Linked DNA regions of Homo sapiens. The protein of the gene in region 4 interacts with the protein of the main gene of each other region in a pairwise test. Each region holds a gene or a part of one and is shown on either strand. Other genes may lie near its edges. The genes, in order: MECOM, MET, MST1R and PLXNB1.

What was found.
Region 1: the proteins of PLXNB1 (region 4) and MECOM interact in a two-hybrid assay, tested with the Homo sapiens proteins (one study listed by BioGRID).
Region 2: the proteins of PLXNB1 (region 4) and MET interact in binary tests that used the Homo sapiens proteins (3 or more experiments, as listed by UniProt).
Region 3: the proteins of PLXNB1 (region 4) and MST1R interact in binary tests that used the Homo sapiens proteins (3 or more experiments, as listed by UniProt).

What each region holds. Positions count from the first base shown.
Region 1 is NC_000003.12:169,114,520-169,122,190, reverse strand, and holds part of MECOM (histone-lysine N-methyltransferase MECOM), read left to right. Parts: intron 1-978; coding exon of another isoform or gene 979-981; coding exon 982-1,135; intron 1,136-5,451; coding exon 5,452-6,808; intron 6,809-7,671.
Region 2 is NC_000007.14:116,793,718-116,799,070, forward strand, and holds the end of MET (hepatocyte growth factor receptor isoform b preproprotein), read left to right. Parts: intron 1-1,937; coding exon 1,938-2,074; intron 2,075-2,169; coding exon 2,170-2,407; 3' UTR 2,408-4,660; downstream 4,661-5,353. UniProt on the Homo sapiens protein: Receptor tyrosine kinase that transduces signals from the extracellular matrix into the cytoplasm by binding to hepatocyte growth factor/HGF ligand. Regulates many physiological processes including proliferation, scattering, morphogenesis and survival.
Region 3 is NC_000003.12:49,900,403-49,908,965, forward strand, and holds the start of MST1R (macrophage-stimulating protein receptor isoform 1 preproprotein), read right to left. Parts: upstream 3,472-8,563; 5' UTR 3,208-3,471; coding exon 1,978-3,207; intron 1-1,977. UniProt on the Homo sapiens protein: Receptor tyrosine kinase that transduces signals from the extracellular matrix into the cytoplasm by binding to MST1 ligand. Regulates many physiological processes including cell survival, migration and differentiation.
Region 4 is NC_000003.12:48,412,574-48,420,244, forward strand, and holds part of PLXNB1 (plexin-B1 precursor), read right to left. Parts: coding exon 7,004-7,671; intron 6,794-7,003; coding exon 6,671-6,793; intron 6,467-6,670; coding exon 6,344-6,466; intron 5,970-6,343; coding exon 5,876-5,969; intron 5,791-5,875; coding exon 5,618-5,790; intron 5,490-5,617; coding exon 5,338-5,489; intron 3,879-5,337; coding exon 3,773-3,878; intron 3,595-3,772; coding exon 3,458-3,594; intron 3,187-3,457; coding exon 3,010-3,186; intron 2,775-3,009; coding exon 2,603-2,774; intron 2,469-2,602; coding exon 2,226-2,468; intron 1,499-2,225; coding exon 1,322-1,498; intron 1,246-1,321; coding exon 1,097-1,245; intron 965-1,096; coding exon of another isoform or gene 814-964; exon of another isoform or gene 597-813; coding exon 496-596; intron 387-495; coding exon 169-386; intron 48-168; coding exon 1-47. UniProt on the Homo sapiens protein: Receptor for SEMA4D. Plays a role in GABAergic synapse development. Mediates SEMA4A- and SEMA4D-dependent inhibitory synapse development. Plays a role in RHOA activation and subsequent changes of the actin cytoskeleton.

The DNA.
Region 1 (7,671 bases), about 120 Mb from region 4:
ATGCCTATTCAGAAAGAATGGGTGACTCTTATATTTGCAGATTTTTCCAACCAAGGGCTCACCATAAATTATGACTTGGTTCTAATTAAAATGTATAGAGCCTCTGTCAGTGCTGAACAACATAGGGATGATATGGAAGTACTCAACTTAGACCATAACTGTGAACTATGGTAAAAGTAATTCACTTCTTTTAATTTCATGTTTCTTGATTAACTCAAAGATGTCCTGGTGTCATTAAAGTTGCTTTCTATTTCCAAAACACATTTCCTAGCATTTTAATAGCTTTTTTTTTTTCATGCCAATGGAAATTTCTGTACCCCACCAGGTTACTGGGTAGTCATTCTCCTGTGATTACCTTGTTCTATGCACATTAAAATTTTGTATGTTTTTTTCTCATAAAAATTAAAAAATACATTTGAAATTTCTTTAGGGATGTTTTGCTCTCAGATGTGTTGGGTGGCTTTTTTATTTTTGTTTTTAGTACAATGTCTAAAGGAATGGTTTTAGCTTGCTAGTAACTCACTGAAAGAGTGTTAGAATTTTACGCCCTAGGGAAACTCTTTAAATAGATTTAATGTAGTTAGTCAAAATCCTCCAAATTTTTGTACACAATGTGTCTTTATTTAAAGGGTGAAAATAGCACACCAGTTTTAATAATGGCTTAACCAGCATTTTATTATTCAACTCAAGTCACTCTAAATGGTATCAAAAAGGCCTTGAATATGGCCTAATAGTGCCATTCATTATTTGGTTCAACTGATACCAGTGGATACACCATGCTAAGGATATAGAGCAGAATAATTTACAGTTCCTACCCTAGAGGAGAGTACATTTTGGAAATTAGAGGAGAGTACACTTTTGGTCTTTGGGGAAAAGAAAAACAAAACAAATAAGAAAAATTTCTTCTTGAGTCATCCCGGGTCTTCTTTATTGTGCCCTTGAGTTAAGTTTCTTGATTAATCAGTACTCATTTCCTAGCAGGTTTTCACGGACCCTAGCAACCTTCAGCGGCACATTCGCTCTCAGCATGTCGGTGCCCGGGCCCATGCATGCCCGGAGTGTGGCAAAACGTTTGCCACTTCGTCGGGCCTCAAACAACACAAGCACATCCACAGCAGTGTGAAGCCCTTTATCTGTAAGTTTTCAACACTCCAGCCCTCCTTCCCACATCTGTCTCTTCCCCAAAAGGCACTGTGACCAGGAGAGTGGCTGCACATGGCCTTTAGAGGGTCACCGTGTTAGCTATTTATGGTCCAATCCAGTAGGGCTATTTATGATTACAAGTAAATCTTTTATAATCAGATCCATGGTATTTTGTCCTTGATTCCTGGGGTGTTTTCTTTCAGAAGAAATCAATAACAGGTAGAGAAAAGAAAATTCATTAGATAATCAAAGGGAAACCTCCACAGGTTGTAGGATTTAATCAGGACAATCAGATTTGTCTCATATTGTAAATGTTCATGGCTTTGTAAAGCAGCAAATAGCAGCCATCACTAAACAAGATGAAGTGATTAAAAACCTGTTCTGGATCAGAAAGAGCTGGAAGAAGCCCACCTGGGAAGTAGGCTTACGGCTCTGTGTGCATGTATGTGAGTATATGTGTGTGGAGAGAGCGAGGGGGATGAAATGCTTTTTAATCTACCCATTGTTGCCGATCACAGGCTGTCGGATCTGTAGTTCTCTGTTACTTGAAGAAAAGCAGAACATTTTCACTTAGATGCTGGACATGCTGTTTCTCTTACCCACTGCACCAAAGCAAGTTTATAGGCAGTGTGCTTTTAGGGGACATCTGATCTGACCACCTACTTAGAACATCCCTGTACAGAGCACTGTAGTAACATCCTTCAAATACAATAAAACTCAGCTCTCATTTGCTTTTTCTTCTCTCCGCCCACTCCTATTCTCTGTATTGTGCTCAAACATTTTATAAGTAAAATCAGTTGTTCTTAGTCTACCTGGGCAAAAAATCTGGGCTTCTTTTAATCCATTGCTTGGCGGGGCATATAAATACAATGACTTATTGAGTTGTGCTACAAACGTCAAGACTGATTTTGGACCCAGATACACATAGAATTGGTTGAAGCATACTCAGCACTTGGCAAGACCTCTGACTTTGGTTTGTAGTAGGTATATGAGACACTACTACAGGACCTGATGGAAAAAACTATTTTTCAGTGCCAACATGGAGATGCCAGAGACTAACTCTCCTTTGCCTCGACACAGCTTTCTTTTGTGTGTCCAAGCACCAAAATAGCTTTTCTTTCCTTTTCCAGCTTACACTAGAGTCCTGTTTTGCTCATATGCTCTTCTGTTCCCCGGGTGAAGAGGACTAGCAGATTAAAAAAGGGTGCTCTCATCTCCCTTGGGGAAGCTCTATTGAAGGTCACGGGAAATAAAGCATTCAATAGAAATTTTAGACTTCTTGTCGCAAAAAGGCATTCCTGACTCTTAAGTCTTAATGCCCTGAAAATGTACTTGGAAGTACTACAGGCATACGATATTAAATAGTTCATTTATTTCTGATTCCTCAGAAATAAATTTTGGTAAGTTTTATTATGTTTTGATGTGAGAAAAAACTAGAATAAACCACAAGGAATTCTGATCACTCATTTAATGCTTTCTCTATTATTTAAAATAAAAGTCAGAAAATATAGACTTCTGCTATCGAAGATTCTGGGATCTGGAATTTTAATTGTGTTGAAGACAAGTGTTTCACTTTAAAGTGCCATAGGGTGTCCCTTTCCAATCAGATTGCATAAAGTATTTCCCTTGAATGTATTTTCAGTAATTATTGGTAAATTTAAATAGCAGATGGCATTCTTCAAATTTAAAATCTGCCAGAGAACCATGGAGTAATTATGAATAATAGCCATGTAATTTCAGAACAAAAGAGATTAAAGATCAGGAAATGGTGTGGAGACTTGAGTGGAGGAGGTTCACCTAGGGCTGATATCTGTTTCTCACCAGAAGGCCACACACCACGATTTACCCCCACTGGTGTGTTTATGGCAACTGTCTCTTATTACAGTGTGCTGCCACGCTTGAGCCCAAAGTCACCAGTGCTAAGGTAATTACTCACTGCCTTTACAGAAACCTACAGCTTTCCCAAATAGAAACCACATGCTCTAATAGGCTGAATATATTCAAAATGCCTCTTAATTTGTTTAATAAGTAGAAAAATGCAATGTTAACTGCTGGCTAATTCCTTATTACTGAGAAAATTACAGTAGAGTATAAACTTCAACATCAATTGAACCAGTTTACCTGGAGGCCTGGTAGTTTGTGGTATGCCAGGCCAGGCCTTCAAGTGCCGAAAACAAAGCCTCTGCCTAAGAAAACATCCCAGATTCGATGTTCTTGAGCCCAGACACAGACAGCACTCAGCCATGTAACAACGGGTGCCACCAGAAAAGTCAGCTGAACTTCTGTTACTCCAATAGAGAGAAGCTCTTGATTTTTTTTTTTTAAGCCATCTGATTGTAAGAAAGAAGTGTAGAGAGCAACATTTCCTTGCCAAAAAATGACAAGTCTTTGAAAAACTTATGTCTTGGTTGAATACTCATCAAGACATTTTTTCAATGCCTTTTAAGAGGTGTTGCTTTCTTACTTTTTATAATTCCAATAATAAAATATTGTTATTGCTTGTAGCTATAAATTATTCTAATATATCTAGTAAACATCTGATGTTTCTACCTTCTCCATTATTTGATTTTAATTAGTGTATCAAACAGTTTAAATTAGATGTATATTTATGGTGTATGGTTAAATTGTATATACTTTTAAAGCTGACTCTGGTCGATATATTCTGGTAAAATAATTTGAAAAGATATCACCCACATCTTCTATTCCCATTAAAATGCATGTTACAGCCTCTGTAACGTTGTGATTCATCCCACAATTGAAGGCACCTTTAATATTACCAAACACTTTGATATATGCAACAATACACTTTAACCTTTAGTAGTAAAAGAAAGAGATATACCCTTACTTGGTACTTCCTGTTTGGATGTATGTGGGATAATCCAAGCTCTGGGTGAGTTTTGCTTGACTGAAAGTCTATAAAATCTCCTTGACATGAGTTTTTTTTTTTAATTATTATTGCTTTGACTTAGAAGCACAATCATTCTGCACTTAAAGGCAGCCATCATATGAAAGCAATAACTGTTGCATTTTGTCTTCAATTTAATTTCTTAAAATAAATTTGCTTCAACAATTACCAACAAGGTACATCTTGTTTCTGCATGTATTGAACATGCACAGAAGTGTTAAAATAAGCTCACACATAACGTGGCTCAATCCCGTAAAGTAAAATAAAAAATGTGATGCTCAGGGTACTGATACTGTAATACTGCTGGACAGTGAAGTGAGTGATTCTTACCTGGTAAAGGAGTTATTAAGGGTTACAAAGTTTGGTCTTAAAATATACTTGGCTATAGTGGCACATGTGTGAGGAGGAAGATTCTACTTTATTGACAAATTCTTAGCAAAGAGGCATATTTCACAGCTGCATCCAATGCTGTGCCCTTCTTTCTGGATTAGAGCTTTCACAGTGCTCTCCCCTACTGAGCATAGTTGGCTATAACACACAGAAGTCAAGCCTGAGATAACCAGTGTAGATATGACAACAAGTGGACATGTTTCCCAAGGACGGGGTTTTCATAAATGCAGGAAGGTTAGCACAACCACTGGTGTGAGGGGAAGTCAGAGGACGTGATCATAGTTCATGGGAACCAGCAATGCAGGATGGGCTACATTCAATTTAGTTTCCTTTGCAGGCTTAAAATAGAGCCATTGTAAATTATGTCAGTCTTTCTCAAATCATGAAAATGATTGTTAAAAAAAGTCTCAGAATACACAATGTGCATTGTTGTGTGGCTTTGATGTGTGAATGATGAGAGCATATGATATAATACCAATTAAATAATAGCAGGGCAGTCACAGGCTTTTTCCCCAAGGGGAGAGGCAATAAAGGTGAAGTTTCTGGTTGAGGATATTTTATTTTGTTTTGGTGCCTACAAAATAGAATTTTTAAGTACTCTAAAATTTGAAAGGGGTTCTTGTTGTGTTTTGTACGTAATGCATTTTAAGACTAATTTTCAACATTATATTAGTATAATAATTGTGTGGAGAATCAATGCATGATGGAATTTAACTTTTCATAAATATTTAAATACACAAATATTATGCAAAATATTGCACAAGGGGGTGACAAGATATATATATCTATATATATGAAATATTTGTGCTGCCTCAAGACATTTGTCAGGTTGGTTGCCTTGCTTTGGAATCTAGTGAAATGGGGTTTTCTGTGTTTGGAGCACCCAGATTGGTGCCTCCAATGTCTTTTACTGGCTTCCTAATTGAAATTTTGAGTAAACCAATTGTGATATTTGCTAAATTCAGAAGCAATTGACATAAAGCCTGAGATTCTTTTTTGTTGTTTGCACACAGGTGAGGTCTGCCATAAATCCTATACTCAGTTTTCAAACCTTTGCCGTCATAAGCGCATGCATGCTGATTGCAGAACCCAAATCAAGTGCAAAGACTGTGGACAAATGTTCAGCACTACGTCTTCCTTAAATAAACACAGGAGGTTTTGTGAGGGCAAGAACCATTTTGCGGCAGGTGGATTTTTTGGCCAAGGCATTTCACTTCCTGGAACCCCAGCTATGGATAAAACGTCCATGGTTAATATGAGTCATGCCAACCCGGGCCTTGCTGACTATTTTGGCGCCAATAGGCATCCTGCTGGTCTTACCTTTCCAACAGCTCCTGGATTTTCTTTTAGCTTCCCTGGTCTGTTTCCTTCCGGCTTGTACCACAGGCCTCCTTTGATACCTGCTAGTTCTCCTGTTAAAGGACTATCAAGTACTGAACAGACAAACAAAAGTCAAAGTCCCCTCATGACACATCCTCAGATACTGCCAGCTACACAGGATATTTTGAAGGCACTATCTAAACACCCATCTGTAGGGGACAATAAGCCAGTGGAGCTCCAGCCCGAGAGGTCCTCTGAAGAGAGGCCCTTTGAGAAAATCAGTGACCAGTCAGAGAGTAGTGACCTTGATGATGTCAGTACACCAAGTGGCAGTGACCTGGAAACAACCTCGGGCTCTGATCTGGAAAGTGACATTGAAAGTGATAAAGAGAAATTTAAAGAAAATGGTAAAATGTTCAAAGACAAAGTAAGCCCTCTTCAGAATCTGGCTTCAATAAATAATAAGAAAGAATACAGCAATCATTCCATTTTCTCACCATCTTTAGAGGAGCAGACTGCGGTGTCAGGAGCTGTGAATGATTCTATAAAGGCTATTGCTTCTATTGCTGAAAAATACTTTGGTTCAACAGGACTGGTGGGGCTGCAAGACAAAAAAGTTGGAGCTTTACCTTACCCTTCCATGTTTCCCCTCCCATTTTTTCCAGCATTCTCTCAATCAATGTACCCATTTCCTGATAGAGACTTGAGATCGTTACCTTTGAAAATGGAACCCCAATCACCAGGTGAAGTAAAGAAACTGCAGAAGGGCAGCTCTGAGTCCCCCTTTGATCTCACCACTAAGCGAAAGGATGAGAAGCCCTTGACTCCAGTCCCCTCCAAGCCTCCAGTGACACCTGCCACAAGCCAAGACCAGCCCCTGGATCTAAGTATGGGCAGTAGGAGTAGAGCCAGTGGGACAAAGCTGACTGAGCCTCGAAAAAACCACGTGTTTGGGGGAAAAAAAGGAAGCAACGTCGAATCAAGACCTGCTTCAGATGGTTCCTTGCAGCATGCAAGACCCACTCCTTTCTTTATGGACCCTATTTACAGGTAAGCGTGTATGGAAGATGACGAAATATGAGCAGATGTATGAAAGGCGGTATTTCCACTGTAAAGTGATGGCTTTTTAACACATCATTTTTACTATTATTATAAAACAGAGTGAAGTTGTTTGATCTAGTGAACTCATTTTTTATTCTGAAAGTTGGATCATTCTGTTTGAACTTATTTTTGGATGTTTCTGAAGTTGGGGGTTTGGAATAGGCCTACAGAATTTTTTTCCCTTGACAATAAATTTATTTTTAAACACTTTTTTTGGAGTGGAAAATATGGGAAAGTCATATTTAAAGTAAATTGTCAAGTGGCGGAAGAATGAGGATCCTGAAGGATTAATGCAAATATGCGTGGGTACTTAAATGGGTCAGGTTCTTTGGAATGGGGGGGATATCTAACAGCAAGAGTCCACTCTTTTTTGACCTACCAACACATCCTTAATAAGGGCTGGTCATATTGTTTCTAAATAAATCTCTCAGGAGCCCCCAAGTAAATGAAATATTAATCACAGAATATGTTTTGTATATAATATGAGTAGTTGGCTTAAAAAATGTCTCTGTTTAATAGCTTCATTATCCGGTTTCCTTTGATGTAGCAAAAAAATCTTGGGGTGAAACATACAAGTTTAATAAAAGGCCTTTTTGGCAATATTCAGTAATATTCACCTGACCAAAGTGATTTAGTTTTAAAATACTAGTTTTCTTTAAATGGGTATGAATAATAATATGTTTGTTACATATTTTGAATATTACAAACATTTTCACATTTACTTTCTCATTCTAATCTTGAACATTGTCAAGAGTTCATGGAACATCTGGATAATTTTTTATTGAACTTATTTAACATCGGAGTATTTTCAT
Region 2 (5,353 bases), on a different chromosome or scaffold from region 4:
GAGAAACCCCGTCTCTACTAAAAATACAAAAATTAGCCTGGCATGGTGGCAGGCGCCTATAATCCCAGCTACTCAGGAGGCTGAGGCAGGAGAATCGCTTGAACCCGGGAGGAAGAGGTTGCAGTACACCAAGATTGCACCACTTCACTCCAGCCTGGGCAAAAGAGCGAAACTCCATCTCAAAAAATAAAAAAGGAAAGAAAGAACACATGTGTACTGTTACTCCTGGCCCCACCCCCTCCACCCAAAACTCTCCCTCTGCCCTCATATTACCTGCACCTATAAAACAAAGTCTCCCTGTTCCTCAAGACCCACCTTACTGTCACTCTCTTCCTGCAGCCTTTCTCAGTACCCTACTATTATCTCTTTGACTTTTGGCAACCTTTGTACCTCTTTGATATTACTGCTCTATATTACAGCTATTATCTTATTGTCCTGTGTGGCAGTTATCTGCTCAATTCTCTTAACCCTGTTCATTCAGCCCTGGGACCTATCTAGTAACTTGAACAGTAACCTACTCGTATGTGATCAAGGGTCAATTGATACTTGTTAAATTGATTTTAAATGTTAATGCATATTCTGGGACTTGAAAGTTAACACGATGATGTTGTCAGAAGTGATTGTTGATTGTTAAGATTTTCAGACTTTGAAAACTTCTACTTTGCAAAGCTGAATTAGACAGCAAAGTTCTGTAGCTCCCTCCTGGCAAGGGGTTTGAGTTTTCTGTTGGGATCAAGGCAGTCAGCAGCCATCAAGGGTTCTTGCACTTGGGCAAAGAAGTCATTAATGGTAATTTGTATCAGCAATTACAGCATCTACCTCATTTCTTTCTTTCAGTCGCAGCGTTCAAAGGCAGGCTTTATTCTCCTTCTTGCTGGGTACTGCAAGCTACACTTGCCTCTCAGTTTTATGTCTTCCTACTCCAGCTGTCTGGTGTGGATTTTCCTTCTGCTCCAAGCTTCCTTCATTTCTTCCTCCTTATGCTTCCTACTCTTAGAGTGGCCTGGAAGTGTTGCTGGGCCAGAACTGCCCCCCTGGGTCCTGTCCACAGGGGCGGCCTCTGCCCATGCTGACTCTCCTCGTGTCATTCTTGCATGGGCACATGTCCAGGGGGAGATAATATGTATGACCTGGTCTATCCTGAGCACAGTGTTTTAAATCAAGAAATTGCATGTTTATTGAAGTTCAGTAGACCAAACAAGACCTAAGGGTCAGGAACTCTTAAATGTTTATCCCAGTGTGGACTCAGATGTATTGGGGAATTTTAGCAAGTCACTTAACCTCTCCGTGTCCCTGTGATCTTCCTATATAGTACTGATACGGCTATTTTATATGAATCTAGTACTTTCACATCTTCATGTGACAGTTTTATTGAAATTAATTTTCAATAGAGAAACTTGTTGCCTTGCAGTTTTTTTTATTTCTGATTTTTAATATGTATTTTTACTTATGTTGATTTAGACCTTCCCATTTAATAGTAACCTTTCAATGTGGTTACATTTCTTAAAGAGTATTTATGTTCAGTTTGAAACCACACAAATTTAAATTTTGGGAGGCTTTCTTCTTCTTTTACAAGTAATGTAAAATTGTAGTGAAGCTATTGGAAAAGAAAAGGATAGAAACATGTTAGTGCTTTGACACAGCGGGAGAGAATTTTGGAAGAGATATTCTACCAACTACAGATGGAATCTTCATCATCATGTAGACTTCAGATATTCTTTTAGAAAACTTTACATTTACTTATAATCTAAACCTTACTTGTTTAAACAAGTCATGAAATGTATAGCTTAATAATTGCCTTTAAGAAAATTGTTGCCCAAAACAGAAACCGTATTGAGTATGTAAAGCCAAGTTTAGTTACCAAGACCTACTGATTTCCTTTCATATATGTATGGTCACATCTCTCACCTCATCTGTCCTGTTTCTTGTTTTACTAGTGGTCCTTTGGCGTGCTCCTCTGGGAGCTGATGACAAGAGGAGCCCCACCTTATCCTGACGTAAACACCTTTGATATAACTGTTTACTTGTTGCAAGGGAGAAGACTCCTACAACCCGAATACTGCCCAGACCCCTTGTAAGTAGTCTTTCTGTACCTCTTACGTTCTTTACTTTTACAGAAATGCCTGCCTTCAAAGGGTCTCTTACAGCATGTCTTTCTTTTTGGAACAGATATGAAGTAATGCTAAAATGCTGGCACCCTAAAGCCGAAATGCGCCCATCCTTTTCTGAACTGGTGTCCCGGATATCAGCGATCTTCTCTACTTTCATTGGGGAGCACTATGTCCATGTGAACGCTACTTATGTGAACGTAAAATGTGTCGCTCCGTATCCTTCTCTGTTGTCATCAGAAGATAACGCTGATGATGAGGTGGACACACGACCAGCCTCCTTCTGGGAGACATCATAGTGCTAGTACTATGTCAAAGCAACAGTCCACACTTTGTCCAATGGTTTTTTCACTGCCTGACCTTTAAAAGGCCATCGATATTCTTTGCTCTTGCCAAAATTGCACTATTATAGGACTTGTATTGTTATTTAAATTACTGGATTCTAAGGAATTTCTTATCTGACAGAGCATCAGAACCAGAGGCTTGGTCCCACAGGCCACGGACCAATGGCCTGCAGCCGTGACAACACTCCTGTCATATTGGAGTCCAAAACTTGAATTCTGGGTTGAATTTTTTAAAAATCAGGTACCACTTGATTTCATATGGGAAATTGAAGCAGGAAATATTGAGGGCTTCTTGATCACAGAAAACTCAGAAGAGATAGTAATGCTCAGGACAGGAGCGGCAGCCCCAGAACAGGCCACTCATTTAGAATTCTAGTGTTTCAAAACACTTTTGTGTGTTGTATGGTCAATAACATTTTTCATTACTGATGGTGTCATTCACCCATTAGGTAAACATTCCCTTTTAAATGTTTGTTTGTTTTTTGAGACAGGATCTCACTCTGTTGCCAGGGCTGTAGTGCAGTGGTGTGATCATAGCTCACTGCAACCTCCACCTCCCAGGCTCAAGCCTCCCGAATAGCTGGGACTACAGGCGCACACCACCATCCCCGGCTAATTTTTGTATTTTTTGTAGAGACGGGGTTTTGCCATGTTGCCAAGGCTGGTTTCAAACTCCTGGACTCAAGAAATCCACCCACCTCAGCCTCCCAAAGTGCTAGGATTACAGGCATGAGCCACTGCGCCCAGCCCTTATAAATTTTTGTATAGACATTCCTTTGGTTGGAAGAATATTTATAGGCAATACAGTCAAAGTTTCAAAATAGCATCACACAAAACATGTTTATAAATGAACAGGATGTAATGTACATAGATGACATTAAGAAAATTTGTATGAAATAATTTAGTCATCATGAAATATTTAGTTGTCATATAAAAACCCACTGTTTGAGAATGATGCTACTCTGATCTAATGAATGTGAACATGTAGATGTTTTGTGTGTATTTTTTTAAATGAAAACTCAAAATAAGACAAGTAATTTGTTGATAAATATTTTTAAAGATAACTCAGCATGTTTGTAAAGCAGGATACATTTTACTAAAAGGTTCATTGGTTCCAATCACAGCTCATAGGTAGAGCAAAGAAAGGGTGGATGGATTGAAAAGATTAGCCTCTGTCTCGGTGGCAGGTTCCCACCTCGCAAGCAATTGGAAACAAAACTTTTGGGGAGTTTTATTTTGCATTAGGGTGTGTTTTATGTTAAGCAAAACATACTTTAGAAACAAATGAAAAAGGCAATTGAAAATCCCAGCTATTTCACCTAGATGGAATAGCCACCCTGAGCAGAACTTTGTGATGCTTCATTCTGTGGAATTTTGTGCTTGCTACTGTATAGTGCATGTGGTGTAGGTTACTCTAACTGGTTTTGTCGACGTAAACATTTAAAGTGTTATATTTTTTATAAAAATGTTTATTTTTAATGATATGAGAAAAATTTTGTTAGGCCACAAAAACACTGCACTGTGAACATTTTAGAAAAGGTATGTCAGACTGGGATTAATGACAGCATGATTTTCAATGACTGTAAATTGCGATAAGGAAATGTACTGATTGCCAATACACCCCACCCTCATTACATCATCAGGACTTGAAGCCAAGGGTTAACCCAGCAAGCTACAAAGAGGGTGTGTCACACTGAAACTCAATAGTTGAGTTTGGCTGTTGTTGCAGGAAAATGATTATAACTAAAAGCTCTCTGATAGTGCAGAGACTTACCAGAAGACACAAGGAATTGTACTGAAGAGCTATTACAATCCAAATATTGCCGTTTCATAAATGTAATAAGTAATACTAATTCACAGAGTATTGTAAATGGTGGATGACAAAAGAAAATCTGCTCTGTGGAAAGAAAGAACTGTCTCTACCAGGGTCAAGAGCATGAACGCATCAATAGAAAGAACTCGGGGAAACATCCCATCAACAGGACTACACACTTGTATATACATTCTTGAGAACACTGCAATGTGAAAATCACGTTTGCTATTTATAAACTTGTCCTTAGATTAATGTGTCTGGACAGATTGTGGGAGTAAGTGATTCTTCTAAGAATTAGATACTTGTCACTGCCTATACCTGCAGCTGAACTGAATGGTACTTCGTATGTTAATAGTTGTTCTGATAAATCATGCAATTAAAGTAAAGTGATGCAACATCTTGTATACTGATAGTGGTTATTGCCAGTCATGCTTGATTACCTGCATTTGCATAATGATAGAGGAAGCCTAAGATGGATTTCACCTGGCTGCATAGAGCTCATCCATGTAGGAGAGCCTTAGTCAAGTGAATGCTGAGGAAGTAGTAAAACAGCATGCATCCCCGAATCTCAGGAAGTCTCTGTCTTTCCAAGGGTTTGGTCTAAGTTGCTGATTACCTGGATTTTTCTGACGATCTTTCAACTGCTAGAGCATCTGGTTCCTGTTTTAGCATGGTGCTCTTCTCCAGCAAGGTGTGTCCTTAGACTAGAAGACACAAAAATGGAGCAGCAGCCACACCATTGGCGCACAGATACCTAGGTGTGGGTTGGAGAGAGAGGCCTTCTTGCCCCATCAAAACTACTCTTTATCTACACAGGTGCCCACCCTTTTACCCCCAGTTACCAGAGAAATTACCTTCAGGTTATCTCCATGTATATTCTTGTAATGGTAAGGGAATTCAAAGGTGATAATTTCAGCCATCTAAGAATTGTGTGACACATTGGGGGTAATCTAATTTTAAAAGAACCCAATTTAAAATAATGCCTACAAAATACAATGGACACTGATCCTTTACTGGGAGATAATTCAACCCCCGCTCACGGCCAAACTCTCTCCCACTCAAAAGATGCATTTCCCCAGAAAGTTCAA
Region 3 (8,563 bases), 1.5 Mb from region 4:
TCAGTAGCCAGCCCTAGGTGCTTAGGACTCTCTCTCACCAGCCCGGAGGGCACTCCTCGAAGCAGGAGCCTCTGAAGGCTCCATCAGACCACAGAGGCTTAACCCAGTCCTGAGACCTCAGCACTGATTAGTAGCCCTGGAGGCAAAAGTAGATGTGGAGCTGAGCCTCGAAACCCCATACACCTTGTGCCTACAGCTTGGGGTGGGTGGGGACTGGGATTTTGTCCTCACTTGAGGCAGGAAATCGGCTTGGCTTGGCCCGAGCCGGAAGGCTGCCAGGTGTTTCTAGCATGACTCAGGGACAGGTGGGGCTCTGAAGGGGAATAGAGCCCTACCTTAGTCAGGCCCACACCCTAGCCTGCTTGTCCCTAGCCCCAGGACCTTAGCTCTACGTTCCCAGGCTTAGGTAGGGGCCCCCAGCTCCTGAAAACACGTAAGTGTCCAATGTCCCATGGAGGACAGGCACCAGCTCTGAGTCCCTCAGGCCTCCTGAGGCCAACCACTATGTGGGTGCTGCCCTAGTGGCTGCATGCCCAGAGTTGCTGGGCAAACACTGCACGGGGTGATTCACACACCTCCTGGGGGCCTGGCCAGCCTGTGAGCAGGGACCAAGATTAGTCTTCCTGGAGCCTGGCACTGCCCAGCCGTGCTGGGTGTCTTCTGACCCACTGACCACTAGGCAAGCTGGGGAGAGGTTCTGACTCCCCATTGGGAAGGAGAAGGGGCCAGGCAGGCCTGCCCAGGCCCAGACAAGGAGTCCCCAACCCTAGGGCCTCTCAACCCAGATGTACTCAGCAGAGGGAGGGAGGCTAAAGACCCCCAACCTCACATTGGGTGTAAGTTCTCCCATCTCCGAGGCATCAATAGGAGCGGAAAGGAGTCTTTCGAGAATGTCACAGCAGGCCCAGGGCCACAGGATGATAGCTAGAGAATCTAAGAACAGTAGCTGTGGGTCCCATTCCTTGGTCCAATCTTACTGCTGTTGCCTACACGATGGCTGGAGAGAACCTAGATAGAGTCTGTGGAAGGAGCCCCCAGTTCAGCACAGGCTTTGAGACTTCCTGCCTGGGGTAGGGCTCCAAATACAGTTAAAAAAAAAAGTCTGGGATGGACCAATTCCAACCAGCCCTTCCTAGGCCTTTACTTATCCCCAGATGTTTATAGTTGCTTGCACAAGACTAGAGTGAGGCTCCCAGAACCTTCTAGAACCAAGCTGCCATTCCATGAGTTCTGGGTACTCCCCCAATCACCCCCAATCATGGCAAAAACGTTAGTGAAGCCCAGGACATGCAGGCTCCCTAACAAGCTCCCAACTTCCAAGGCCCAGGAGGCTCCCTGGAACGTGGTGGCTGGCAGAAGGATGGGGGTGGGTGGGGGGAGGGGGTGTGGAGGAAGGGGAGATTCTCTGACAACTCCCGTCCCACCCCCTTTGGAAAGCAGAGCAAAACAAGGGAAAGTGAAACTGTTGGCAAGCAGCTGTGAGTCTGTGAATCTGTGAGCATCTCCCTGTGTATTTGTGCGTGGTGGTGGTGGTGGTGGCGGGGGTGGGGGAGGGGAGGGGGGAGTGCTATTTTTCTGCGTGTGTCCCTGAGGATATGGGTGGTGGACAAGTAGGAGGGAATGCCCATCATTCTACCCAGCATTCAGGAGCTATGCTAACAGAGACACGGTTATGTAACCCTATCCTCACATAGCCAGGGAAACTACCTAAAAAACCAGAGGCCATGATGGGCAGGTAGGGGAAAGAGCAAGATGAGGCAGCCACAAGGGCCAGCCTGGGAGCTAAGCCTCCAGTGTAGCCTTTGTCTGGCTGGTTTCTCACACCACCCCAGCACTTAGGAACTGGGTGAGAGAGAATGCTTCTTTCCGCCTGCCCCCCCACCGCGCCCCCAGATCCCCTCAGTGATGGAAGGGAAGCAGCCTGTGTTCAGCCATGTGCATGCAGCTCACAAGTAAGGGCCCCTTCTTTCAGCTTACCGGGTTGGGGCAAAAACTGGGCGACTGGAAGAAGTCGAGGCCTCGCCGGAGGCCTGGATGGACTGGGGATTCACAACAGCGCTCCACACCCTCATCAATTAGTGTGTCCAGCAGGTCAATGGGGAAGGCACAGACGACAGAGTTGGGGCCCACGCCAGGACCACCATCCTTGCCAGTCACAAAGACCCCAAATAGTACTTCCTGGCCCTCGGCGATGCTCAGCTCAGTGGCAAGTTGGGCACCCACTGGAGCGGAGTGGGCCACCCGCAGCACAGGGTAGGGCTGTCCGCCTTCTGGGGCCCCCCGGCGCCTGCGTTTTGGAGCAAATCTGCAGTCGAGGACCAGCTCCCGATAGTCACCCAACTCTGGCTCAGTGGCGCTAAGCCGTGCCAGGCGTGTGTGCAGGGCACTAGGATCATCTGTCACGCTGGCCGGCTGTACAGTCAGGAAGTATACGAAGGCTCCCGTGTGGAAGCTGTGCACGTATTCAATACTGTAGGAGACAAGATGCTTGGGCAGCACTGACAACGCCACAAAGCCCGGTGCGAATCCCGAGGCGTCAGCCTTGAGACGCCTGATAGACACTGAGCGTGGGCTGAAGCTGGCAGCCACGGCTGCGTCCAGTGAGGATGCCACGTAGAAATAGGAGGCCTGGCCTTGCTCAACCACAGTTACACGGGTGCCCAATGGGCTGGCCACACAGTCGGGGCAGTCATCGGGCCGGTTATGGTGGGCTGAGAAGAGGCAGGCTGGCGCTGCCAGATGCACGGCTGTCCCTTGGGGCTCTAGGTCATGCAGGAAGCAGCGGCCCTGCAGGCTGGAGCCACAACTGACCAGCGCAGGCAGCGCGGGATCCAGCACCAGCACCTTTGTGTCTGTGTCACCGGGAGGGCCGTGGGGTCCTGGGCCACAGGCTGCACACGTCTGGCAGCCAGGGTCTCCAGCAGGGCCCGTGGCCAGGCTCTGGACAGACTTCAGGTCAGGCCCAAGCACATGCAGGCGATTGCGTATGGCTACAAACACAGCACTCTCATTTCTGTCGCCCTCGTAGGTCACCATGGCCTGTACCAGGCCTCCGGCGGAGAAGCTGGGCACCACGTACTTCACGTCAAAGTCGCGAGAGGCCGCGTAGGGGGTGCGCGGGCACTGCCAGTCCTCGCCCGCCGCGGGCTTGGCAGGCAACAGCAGCAGCAACAGGAAGGACTGAGGCAGCGGCGGGAGGAGCTCCATCGAGGCGAGCTGGGACCCTAGAGGATCCCTACCGGCCTGGGCCTGGACCTGGGCGTGGGCCTGGCTGGGGGCCCGACTCGAGGTCTGGACTGGGCCAAATTTAAGCAGCGGTCCCGACAGCCCCAAGATAGCGGACCCCCGCCCCAGGTTCCTGTGAAACCCAAATCCCTTCCCGGCCCTCGGGTCTGAGCACCTGACGCCTGCGGACGCACGACAGCAACGCCCCAGCCGCCTCACCTGCCGCCCCAGCCGCCGCTGTACACTGGCGCTTAGCGCTCAGCCGACCCGAGGGCGCCGGGCTGGGCGGGCGGAGTCGGGCCGTGGGGGCGGGGCCGCGAGGAAGGCTTGGCCTAGCCCAGGCCCTCCGCCCATCCGACTCTTCCGGCCCTTGGAGGCCTGGCTCCTGTACCTTCACCTGGCGTCTTGGCGCCTTTTTCTCAGCGGCCTGTGGGTGGATGTGCATGGTGTGGCCTGGAGAGAGGTGAGCCAGTCTGAGCCGTCCCATCCCATCCCCCCACTACCGACTGGTTCGCAGCGAGAAGGGGGGCAGGACACTGGGCTCTTTGCTTGCGGTGGAACTAGTTTGCACTTAGTAGCAACACCCTCAGTGGCTGGTGCCCAGAGGTGGCCTGGGGGCCCACCATGTGGAGAACAGAGACCAGGATTGTGTGGAAGACCAGAGGGGAGATGTGGGGCACTTACAAGAGATGTTATGGGGCGCCACCCTTTGTGGGAAAGGACTGTCCTTTTTTTTTTTTGAGAAGGAGTCTTGCTCTGTGGCCCAAGCTGGATTGCAGTGGCGCGATCTCGGCTCACTGCAAACTCCGCCTCCCAGGTTCAAGCGATTCTCCAGCCTCAACCTCCTCCTGTCTCAACCTCCTGAATAGCTGGGATTACAGGCGCGCACCACCACACCCGGCTAATTTTGTATTTTTAGTAGAGACAGGATTCACAGTGTTGGCCAGGCTGGTCTCAAACTCCTGACCTCAGGTGATCCGCCCGCCTCAGCCTCCCAAACTGTTGGGATTACAGGCGTAAGCCACCGCGCCCGGCCGGGACCATTCTTCCATGTGCTTCTCCTGAGCTATCAGCGACAAGATGGTGTCAGAGGAAGGTGTGTTATGCCCTGCTCTCCCAGGGCCATAAGGGTCTTAGGATGGGATCTGGCCTTGCTGACTGGACCTCAGAGTCAGAGAGGCACGTAAGTGGAGGCCCATACCTCCTCTGCAGCCTCAGTATATGGAAGCTGTATAATGGGGTCCACAGTATGGGCCTTGGGGACTCCCCCTTCCTTCCTGGCTCTACCCAGTGCCCCCCTGATATGGAGGAATCATGGGCTTTGGCTCTCAGGACACTTCCAACATGCTCTGTAGGCCTTGCTGGATCTTATTCTCTTCAATGAGAATGTAGTTCTGGGCTGGGCACCGTGGCTCATGCCTGTAATCCTAGCACTCCTTTGAGGGGCCAAGGCAGGAGGATTGCTTGAGGTTAGGAGTTCAAGACCAGCCTGGGCAACATAACAAAACTCAACAAAACAAAAAAACTGCTAAAAATGTTTTTAAAATAAAATATGTGACCGGGCGTGGTGGCTCACGCCTGTAATCCCAGCACTTTGGGAGGCCGAGGCGGGTGGATCGCTTGAGGTCAGGAGTTCAAGACCAACATGGTGAACAGACAGATCTGGCCAACATGGTGAAACTATCTCCACTAAAAACAAAAATTAGCCGGGCGTGGTGGTGGGTGCCTGTAATCCCAGCTACTAGGGAGGCTGAGGCAGGAGAATAGCTTGAATTTAGGGGGTGGAGGTTGCAGTGAGCTGAGATTGTGCCACTGCACTCCAGCCTGGGTGACAGAGCGAGACTCCATCTCCAAAAAAAGAAAAAGAAAACGTAGTTCCGACTAGGTGATTTCCCAGAGTTCTCTCTTCTGTTTATGAGGAGTGGGGGTGGGGGAGCCTAGTCCCACACTTGGATCTCAGCAGCTGCCCCTTGGTAACTGGTCCCCCAACACTAGACTGAGGCCCCTGGGGGACAACCTTAGCCTGACAGACCCCTCAGTTAGATAGGCCTGGACCCTAGAAGACAGGGAAGGTCCACAGGGTGGGTCTGGGCTGTGAACTATGGGCCCCAAGGCTGTAGATAAGGAGGCTGGGGGAGAGAGGAGCCCTCAGCCCAACAGGATTTAGCCTGGCTTGGGGAGCTATATCTCCTCACTCCCCTTTCAGTTCATACTTCTGTGCCTGCATCCCCTTCCTAACCTGACCTTTGTAAGTGCTGTTCCTCCTTCCAGGAGCACTCTTTCCCTTTTCTCCTTTTGCCACCTAAATGGCACCTCCTCCAGGAAGCCTTTTTGATCCAGACTTTGCCAGTCCCCTCTCCTGGGTCTCACAGACCCAGTGCTACACTCACCCCAGCACAGTTTACTCTGGATACTTCACTTCCTCCATCCCCAGTGCAGGACTCCCCCTCCTTCCAGCCTGGAGCTCCATGAGCACCTGAAGACTGAAAGAGGAAATGGAAGTGGGGGCGGCCACACCCAGTGCAGGGTTGATACTGTGCCCTGAGGTGACATAAAAGACACTCCTTTTCCAAAGCAGAATTGGCCAGGAAATGAATAAACACCCGGAGAAAACCGTGGCGTGGTTCCTGCATTCCACAGTCAACACATCTAAAGATAGGCAAGGCAAAACTAAAATGAAACATTCTCAGCCTGGCGCACAGACAGGGGTTCTGGTGACCCAAATCCCACCTCCAGACTTTCAGAGGGATCTCTGGTGGTTGGGAGAAGACTTCACAAGCCCTCTTAGATCACCCCACCCACCCCTTTTTGGGGGTGGTGTTGCGGCAACCATCCGTTAGTTCTCCGCTGCCACCGTGTGGCCGCGCTAATGGCTGTCCCCAGGCTGAGGTCCCCTGTAAGGCAGCCTTGGTTCTCAACAGCAGGGGTACACAGGAGCACCCCTTCCCCCTCTCGCCATCTGCCGCCTCTATAGGAGGGGGCAGTCAAGGTGTGTGGGGGAGGTCAGCTAATGGGACTCTTAAGTGCCAAGTACAAGGGCACCCCCAAGCTAACATAGCTGGCTAAGAACCTGCTCGACTGCCCTAGCACCTGACGCCTTGAAGGAATACTAGCCACTTTTCCCTCCTTGAGCTCTCAGTCCCCTCTGAACACTGTTCTAGAGAACTAGGTCTAACCTCTTTCTCTAATCCCAAGATCACCTTAGCAGTAGCAAGGGAGTCTCTCTAACTGTAATATGACCACATCACACTGCAGGTTACCTGGAGTTTGAGAACCCCAGCCCTTGTGTGGACCACTCCAGCTTCACTGCAAACAAGTTATATTAGGTTCTTTTTTTTTTTTTTTTTTTGAGACGGAGTCTCACTGTGTCGCCCAGGCTAGAGTGCAGTGGCGCAGTCTCGGCTCACTACAACCTCTGCCTCCTGGGTTCAAGCGATTCTCCTGCCTCAGCCTCCTGAGTAGCTGGGACTACAGGCGCACGCCACCATACTCAGCTAATTTTCGTATTTTTAGTAGAGACAGGGTTTCACCATGTTGGCCAGGCTGGTCTGGAACTCCTGACTTCCAGTGATATACAATCCTTGGCTTCCCAAAGTGTTGGGATTACAGGCGTGAGCCACCATGCCCGGCCTGTACTAGGTTCTTACCAGGTCCTTCCCTTTGCACATGCTGGCTCTTCCACTACGAACACCTTCCCTATTTGTCTGTCTTCCCACCCCTGATCTCCAAGCAGGTACACCCCACACTCCTAGGTGCCTATAGTCCTAGGTATACACATTTATCCAACTATGATCTCCCCAGAATATATGCTGAACTACACAGAAGCTGAGAAACCTACAAGAGTCAGGGCAACCAAAAGAGGCACTTAGGGGCTCACTGTTGACCAGAATGCCAGTAACAATCAGGGACAGCTGGCTTGGCATCACCCAGGCCCCAGAGGCAGTGGTTTGGTGTTCTTACTAGGAGCAGGGGAGGAACAAAAGCAGAAAACAGGCATAAAAGAGACCCAGGGCATGTGTGCAGGGTGAACAGCACCCACCAAGCCTATGGCTGCTCCCCGGAGGCTTTGGAATCTGGGCTGGTAGCCTGCTGCCATGCCCATTCCAATGTGAGCCACAGTGGGGCCAAGGGCAGGGGCTGTGCTGCCATTTTCTGGGACAATAAATACAACTGTTCCAGTGTACCCTGGGTCCATGTCACCCACACAGGCTCATTCTTCAATATGGCTTGATTTTAGTAGCAGAAAATATTGGCTCAACTCTCAGAAACTGCATGAGGGTGATTCTCTCTGACAGTCTGAAGACCACATTCAGAGGACAGTTTTCTCCAATAAGTACTTCCTAGGCCTTGTGTTCCCTGGGGCCAGAACTAGAAGATCCCCCGGCAGCAAAGTGGAAGCTCTCTGCATTGTGCCCTGGGTCCTGTGGTAGAGTAAATGGGGCTGGGCTTTCACTGCCGAGCCTCCTGGATGTCCATGGTGCCCCATGCAGGTCTGCCTATGCCATGCCAGGGACTAGGGTGACTAAGGAGGGCCGAGTGCACGTAGCAGTATTAGCTCTTATTATGGCAGGCCCACTTCTGCCTTAGAGGGTCAACTGGGCCTTCTCTCAGACCCTCAGCTCACTCTTGAGGACCATTTGGAGGAATGCACTGGCTGAGGTAGGAGAACTGAGGCATACAGCCCTTCATGGGAAGGCCTGAGCAGGGACAGTTTCCTCAGAGGCCTGCAGCTAAAGGGAGACTGGATTCTGAATTTCAGCTGAAGACTGGGTTGCCTCACCAGGGGCTCCATCCAGTACCAGGGCTCAGACTCCCCCCATTTTGACCATCTGTATCTTACTCAACTCAGCTTCTGCTGAACTACAGCAACCCATTAAACAGAGCCACAGCGAGGGCTCTGAAGGTGGTTGAGTAGTCTTTTGTGGCATGCAGCAGGGGGCCCCTCCCAGGAGTGATAAGAGAGGCAGACAGCAGAAGCTCAGACTGAATATGGGGGTGGGGGTAGGGTAGGGCAGTATGGTGCCTGAGAACTTTTTATATATGGTAGGACTTCAACTAAACCAAAACGGCCCCAGCCCAAGATCCAGCTGAGAATGTGTGTGGCCTCATGCTGGTGCAAGGGAGGGAGGAGAGGGGCTCAAATGTGCCTGTGTCCCTGTGCAGGAGCTACGGAGGAGGATCCAGTGTCTGTATGTGAGTGAGGGTGGATGGGCGAAGGGACAAGTGACAGAGCTTGACAAGTGTCTTCCCCAAAGCACTTTAATGCATTCACCAACCCACAGTCCCTGCCCGCTGGCTGGGCAAGAGAGGCCAGCCCCCATCTGGAGGCTCCTATGGC
Region 4 (7,671 bases):
CGGTCCCGAGCTGAAAAGGTGCGCTGGCTCTCCAGCGTGTGGATGAACTGCAGCCAAAGAGAAGGGATGGGAAAAGGGGTTTAGGGGGACAGAGGGGCGGGCTCAGAAACCATGCCCTGGAGAAGGGGCAGGGCCAGGGGCAGGCCAGGAAGATGCAGCTGGGGGTACCTTGGTGAGGAAGAGCTTGCTGTTGAGCAGGTTAGAGAGCTGCCCCAGCCCTTGCTCCACAGTGGGCCGTCTGCTCTCAGGCACACCCAGGTCCCGGTGCAAGGGCGACTCGCGGTGCCCAGGGAAGAAGATCCTCTCCGCATACACCTTGTAGTCGAGGAAGGGGATGCCGCTGCCCAGGAGGTCACTGGTGAGATCGGTCATCTCAGTCATGAGGTCTGTTAAGCAGAAGAGGCCAGGTTAAGCACCTGTTAAGCACCAATCCCGTGTGATGGGAGTGGGTTTGGGCAGAGTTCTGGAGGGCGGGGCCCATTCTCTCAGCCACACCTGTGAATTCCTTCTTGCAGCGGTCCCGCACACTGCTCTCCAGATTCTCCAGCTGGATCTGAACCTTCTTATAGTCCCTCAGGGCCTGCTTGCTCTTCCTCCTGCTCAGCCCCAGGGTCAGGAGAGGATGGCCAGATGAGTCCTACTCGCCCAGGCCTGCCTGACAATCCCCAGGCACACCCCGGCCTCATCCAGCACAGTCCAATGCAGCCATGCCAGCCAAGCTCAAGCCTAGCCCAGTACGATTCAGCCTGTCCCGTCCCAAGCAAGTCACACACACCCATGCCCCGTCTAGCCCAGCACAGTTTAGCCTAGAGATCAGCCAACCACAACCAGGCCAAATCCATCCCACAACCTATTTTTATAAAGATTTGTTAGAACACAGCCACTTTCATGTGTTTCCATGTCGTCCCTGGCTGCCTTTGTGCCACAGTGGCAAAGCTGAGTTGTTGAACAGAGACCACTTGGCCTGCAAAGCGAAAATATTTACTCTCTGGCCATTTACAGAGAATGTTTCCTGACTCCTGGCCCGGTCTGTCCCTTCCCAGTCCAGCCAGATCCCACGACCTGCCCCAGCCCAGCCACATCTGGCTGCACCCACCTGTACATGAGGACAATGATGATGACACCCAGAGCCAGAAGAGAGGTGCCCACCCCCAAGCCCACCTGGGCTGCCACAGGAAAAGCCCCAGGGCTCTCGCCGTCATACTGCACGTGACCCAGGGAGAAGCGCAAGTTCCCCATCTGCACCTGTGTCAGGAGCCACCTGTGAGCAAGGGTTTGGCCCAGGTCAATGCCCAGCCCGGCCAGGGACCTGCCCACTGACCGTGAACTCAGGCAAAGAGTCAGGTGCCTCTCGGAGGGCATGGTGCCGTGGCAGGGGCTGCTCCACGGGGGGCTCGCAGTACAGGTGGTGCCGCGTCAGCGTCTTCACCACACAGGGGCCATCCCCTATCATAGCCACCACCTCCTCCTTGGACATTGCAAGGTCCAGGTTCTCCCCCTGGAACAGAGGGTCACCGATCAGTCACTCAGGACCCTTCCCTCAGATCCTGTCCTCCCCAAATGTGGGAAGGACCCTGAGACCCAGCCGCAGCAGCAAAGCTGACAGCCTCTCAGCACCCTTCCCGAGTGCAGGCCAGTCACACGGTGTCCTCCAAGCTGCTCCTCATCACCCTTTGTTGCCCTTTCCTATCTTTCTTCTCCAGAACGAAAAATCTGGAGAACATAAAGCTGCCTCCCAAATCCTGCCCAGCTACCTAACAAAGCTGGAGCCCCCAATCTGTGTCTGATGACTCACCAGGGGGGTGATGATGCTGTATCAACCTGTGGTCTGCCCGCATGCCCATCTGCTGCCCACTGTGTATGTCCAAGACACATGCCTAGCGCATGTCCATGTGAGCCAGGCTGCCAACGGGGGTCAGCCCGATGGCCTATGTGGACCACACCACCCAGCTACTGCACAGGCCGAACATACAAATGCAGTCATTCCAGAGCCTGCCATGGAGTGCATCAGGACCCGGGCCACCAGCCAAGCAGTCCAGCTCGTGCCAGATGCTAGGCTAGGCACCCCCCACCAGCCCCCTCTGCCCCCACCACAGCAAGGATGAGGAGCCATGTCCATCCACCGGCCCTTGCTCTACTGTCTCGGCCTCTCCGCCACACACAGCAGTGCTGTCCAGCCAAGGGAAGGGTCTCGGGGCCCTGCCAGGTCCAAGTAGGAGCTGTACCTCCACGGAGAACACACTCCCAGGCTTGTGCCGGAATGGCATGGTGGGGTCCTCAGGGTTGAGTGGCTGCAGGGTGGGGTCGGCCTCATAGGAGAAAGGTGTGGGGTTCAGTGTTGCAAAGTCAAAGACCAGGTTGTCAAGGATAAATTCCACCCGGACCCAGGGGTCCTCAGGCAGGCCTGGGAGGGCAGGTGTGCGGCACGTGATGAGCTGGGAGGAGTTGACATGGCACGGCTCCTCAAACTGGAAGGAAGACAGGCAGGTTGACGAGGGGCCAAGCAAAGATGGGAAGAGCCTCCTCTGGCACCTGCTCTGGCTGTCCCCAGGGTGTGGTATGGGGCAAGGGGAGAGTGTGGGGGTACCCAAGGGTGTCCTACTTGCTGGCTACTGCAGGAGGGTCCAAGGGAACATGCCGTCTCCGGGACCACGCGACGCCTCCGTCCAAGCCCCTGGCTGGGCTGCAGCATTCTCGAGACCACGGTCACCCGGATTCTTGGCGTCTGTACCACGTCCAGATTCTGGCCACGGACGCATATCTCACGTCCTCCACTGAAACAGACCGTGAGCTTACGTAACGTAAGATGGCTTATGTTACCTGGACCTAAAGCACAGCCCAGTCCCGGCTAGGTCAGCTCAGCCCCAGCCCCAAACCACACGACCCCTTGCCCCTACTAGCAGCATGGGATTCTCAGTGCCTCAACATAAAGCCCTACAAACCCCCACATAGTGGAGCTGCAAAGACCTCCCTGCCACCTGCCATGCAGCCACACCCCTGGCCCAACACCTGAGGAAGCTCTTGGTGGGGCCAGCAGAGGTGATGTTGGGGTCCAAGGTATACTTGAACTGTCCGCGTTGAAGCCTCCGCTCCGTGGCCCCAAACCACACAGCCACAGGGAGCGTGGCAGGCGTGGGGCGTGGGCTGGTCTCACACCGCAGTTGTTCTGACTGCTGCTCCGGCAGCCTGGGAGGGGAGGTGGGAATGAATGCAGGGGCGCAGGCAGGGAAAACTTGGACCACTCAGGCCCCAACTGGCTTCCCTCAAGCGCTGACTGCAGTCTCCACCAGGTGTCCCTGGAGGTGCACTCCCACCACAGCTGGCTAGGGAGGGTCTGGCCACTCTCTGAAGGAGCAGACTGGCCCTCTTCCCCTTTCTGCTCTCCCCAGGATCTCAGACCCCTCCATCTTTCCCCTGGAGCAGATGGATTTTTGCAGGATGAGGAAGTGGCCCTCACAAGTGACAAGGCTGGTCTCCAACCACCACTCGGATGTCCTCCAGCCGCCCAGTCAGGAGCTTGGAGCCATTCAGGGTGAGACGGGTGCCCCCAGCTCTGGGGCCGCGGGCCGGGAAGATGGAATGGACCTTCGGATCCTGTGGGACAGACAGGGAGAGAGATGAGCATCAGACCAGACACATGGAGGCAGGGACAGCCTGAGAGACAGGCTGGCCCAGGACTGGGAGCCCCACCAAGGAATAACCAGATGGGTTGAGAGGAGCCACCAGAGAGGTTGGCCCGCTGGCAGCTGGGGGTGGCTCAGCAGTCAGGTACCTGGTAGGCAAAGTCGTGTTCTGAGACACCACGTCCTCTTCCCGGCACCTCCACCGCTGTGGCGCCGGCCACCTCCTCCCCACTGGCCCCGGTGATGCACACGAGGCTGTAGGCACAGGGCAGGCTAGGGGGTGCCAGGCTGCATCAAGGGCCCCTCAAGCTTACCTGGCAGCCCCTCTCCCTGCCCTACTGTCAGGTGGTCTTCCCCTTCCCATGCTCCATAAGATTGACAGAGACCCTCTCTCACTTTGGAGGGAATTCTTTATGACACATCAGAAGGCCTTGGTATCTGAGAATTAATATTTGTGGCTTCAATCATTTAAGTTCAACCCCAGGGGCCCCCAATAAGGAAGAATTTATCTGTGGCATAAATTTACAAAGGGGCCCTGTCAGCCTGGTTGTGGGGCGAGCTGCTGAGCAAGTGAGTGGGCACAGCTAGCCGCCCATGTCCTCCGCCACGTCACATGCACAGTACCCACTCAAAGCATGGTAGAAACTTGATTTATTCAGGAAAAAGAGTCCCTGAAAGCCTCTAGTCAGACAGGGAAATACAGGTGAAGGGAAAGTGAACCATCTAAGAAAATGCTGGTTCTTAGCCAGAAAATAGAAGCTTGGGCAAATTAAACTTCCAGAGTGTTAAGCCTGCAGTGGCTCAACTCAGTGACATTGTCACAGTTGTTGCAAACACTAGGAAGACACAAGTGACGTGTGAGCCACCCAGGGGAGGCTCCAGACAGAATATATGCTAATTGCTTCATAAATCACAGCAGTCTTATGGTCTGGAACACTAACAGTCTAGATAGTCACCGTAAGTTCTCGGTCATAACACATTCAGGGGACACTCCGTGCTCCAGGAGAGTGGTTCCTTGTTTCAAATACAGATTTGGGGGCCCCACCGTGGGCCTCCTGAATCCAGATGTTTGTGTTGGTTTGGGACAGGATCTGCAGGTTACCCTGATATTCAGCCACGTTTGGGCCCTGCTGCTTATGGACATCTCCTTAGGAATGTCCTGCGTGTGTACCTTTGGGGCCTGCAACCGCTGGCCAGGTTACCATAACCCAGGAGCCCCAGGAAGGCAGCAGGGGTCCCTAGAGACGACAGTGGAGCCTGGCCCTCGGCCAGTGTGCCTTTCTGAGGTGTGCCTTCCAAGTCTACCTTCCTGAAGAGCCTGGCAGCCCAGGACAATGCCTGGGGAAGAGTGAGCTGGTGAGAAGGCCAGCCCCTGAGCTTATCTGTCTGATCTGAGGGTCCTGCTGCCACAGCTATTAATATATCCACAGTCCCTCAGAAGACCAGGTGAGCAGAGCAGGAAGCAGAGCCACGAGTCAGTTCTGGGCAGTGACGGGCCCAGGAAGGATTCCCCAGCAGCCCAGGCCAGGAACCTACAGGTGTGGTGGGTGCTCAGGGTCTTCAGTGGCAACGCTGGCACTCGGGCATTGTGGCCAGGATCAAGGAACAGGGAGAGAGGGGGGCAGATGAGCGGTGGGTGGGAGGCCCCAAGCAGCAACGCCAACCGCGGAGGCCCCAGGCTGCGCCGTGCTCCTGCTGGGTGCAGCCAGCTTACCTGCTGGAGACCTCGTACTCCTGGGCATCCACAGCACAGGGCACTCCAGCCACCGTGACCATGCCCAGCACATCCTGCACATGCTGGCCCAGGTTGGAGCCCCTGATGGTGACACGGGTGCCTCCGTCTACAGGCCCAGTCAGTGGCTCCACCTGTTCCAGGACAAGGACTGCTCACCTCTACTCAACTGGAAAGGCAGCCCCAACCTCCCACCTTTGGGCCCCCACACCCTCCCTCTAAGGGCAGCACTGAGGAAGGGATGGCCAGCCTTTCAACAAACCGAGTGGATGAGGGGCGCTGGGCACTGGGTGGCCACAGCCTCAGCCTCACCACAGGCCTCCCGGGTCACACAACGTGGACGCTCCCCCTCACACCACACACAGCCATACTGGGGCATGGCAGTTTGGCAGCGGCTGCAGTCTCCATGTCCCACGGAACAGTCATACAGTACCACTGGGGGTGGCAGAGACACACGTGAGAGGCAGGCCTGGGAGAGCCCTGCTACCACCGCCAGCCCAGCAGCCCGCAGGTGGCTCACCATGCAGCCCCTCAGCACTGTCCACACGCAGACGGCCGGCCCGACGCAGAAACAGCCCCACACGGAGCTCCGGCTGCAGAGCCTCATAGCTGAGCTGGAGAAATGGGAGTGGGTTCAGAGTCAAGCACTGGGGGAAGTGTCAGGCCTGGGGAGGGGTTAGTCAGAGAAAGGACTAAAACGACCAGTTAGGAGCATAGGGTCAGAGGGACCCCATGGGGCCACAAGTTGGAGGGCAGAGCCAGAAATGGAGTATGGGGACCCCATGGGGTCTCAAGTTAGAGTTCAGAGCTGGGATGCAAGGACTCCACGGGGCACATGGTCAGAGGTCAGAAATGGGTGTGGAGACTCCCTCAGGGCGACACGGTCAGAGCGTGGCTCTGGAAAGTGTGGTGCAGCCAGCTACAGTTGGCAGCCAGCCTGTGGCCAGTGCAGTGCACCCGTGCCCACCCAGGCGCTCATGGTGTGCACCTGGTGCTGCTGGCAGGTGACATGGCACTGGGTATCTGGAGGTGGCTCACACTCGACCCGGGCCTCAACCACCACCTCGAGGCCCTCCAGCTCCATCACACACTCATTGTCTCCTGGGCCATCCTGAGGGCAGAGAACACAGCTGTTGGGCAGCTTCAGGAGCTGGGCCCAGGGAGTCCTGCAGGTCACCCAACAGATCCCCCAGCACAGCTTCTGGGTTGGAGTTGAGCCCTCGGACTCTGCCCTCCTCCTGCTCCCCAGGGCTTGTGCAGAGTTTCTCAACAGCTAAGGAGGCTGCAAGGACAGCGGCAGGCAGGACACACTGACCTGGAAAAGGTGCAGGTTCCTGCCTAGCAGCCGGATTTCCCGCTCCACATGGACCGGCATCAACGTGGAGCCCTGAACGCTCTCCACACAGGGGCAGGAGCTTGCCCCCAAGGTCGCCTCTTCCTGCAGGCACCAAGGGCAAGGCAGTCTATGGAGCCCACCCTGCCCAGCTCAGCCCTCTGCCTTGCCAGATTCCAGAGGCAAGGCCGGTGTGGGGCTGCAGACTCCACCCTGCCCCTCACCTCCTCCCAGTGCAGAATCACAAGGCAAGCTAGGGGTAGCATCTTCCCCACATCCCCTCCCCTGAGGCCTCCTTCCTGGGCTGGGCCTCACCAGCTCCCAGAGCCCGGGGGTGTCATACTGGTAGTCGAGGCTGGACGGGAGGATGAGGGGGGCGGGAGGGCCCTCAAGCTCTGCTGAGTCTCCATCACCTGAGAGGAGGGTGGAAGTGGAGAAGGCGGGTGCGTCACCCCCCGTCCACTCGTCCGCCTCGGGCAGCTCGCCGCCTTCTCTCGTGAGCCAGTCCAGGGCGGGCTTCACGGAGCCCATGGCCCCTGGGAAAGTGGTGGCAGGAACAGTGGCAGGGGGCAGGTCCAGGGGCACTGTGGGATGAAGAGCCTCGGGGCCAGGGTCTGCAGGGGGCACTGCTGCTACCTCTGAGGGTGACAGCGGGGAGGCCAAGAGGTCCTCAGGTGTGGCTGAGGGTCTGAAGTCAGTGGGGGCAGGGACAGCGGTTCCAGGTCCATTTTGGGGGCTGGGAGGGGAGGGCTCCTCATGGAGAGGCGACCCTGTGGAGCCAGGGGAAGATATGGAGCCAGAACCTGCCCATGGCCCCCAGGGGCTGAGCAGGGAAGGACTAGCCCCAGGTGAGATGTCCGAAGCTGTGGCTGTGGAGGGAGCCCCAGGCTCCACGGGAAGGGTGTCAGGAGCAGGGGTGGCCAGGGCTTTGGGGGCTGTGGGTGGGGAGGGGCTGGGTCCACCTCTTGCAGGAGGGTCTGGGG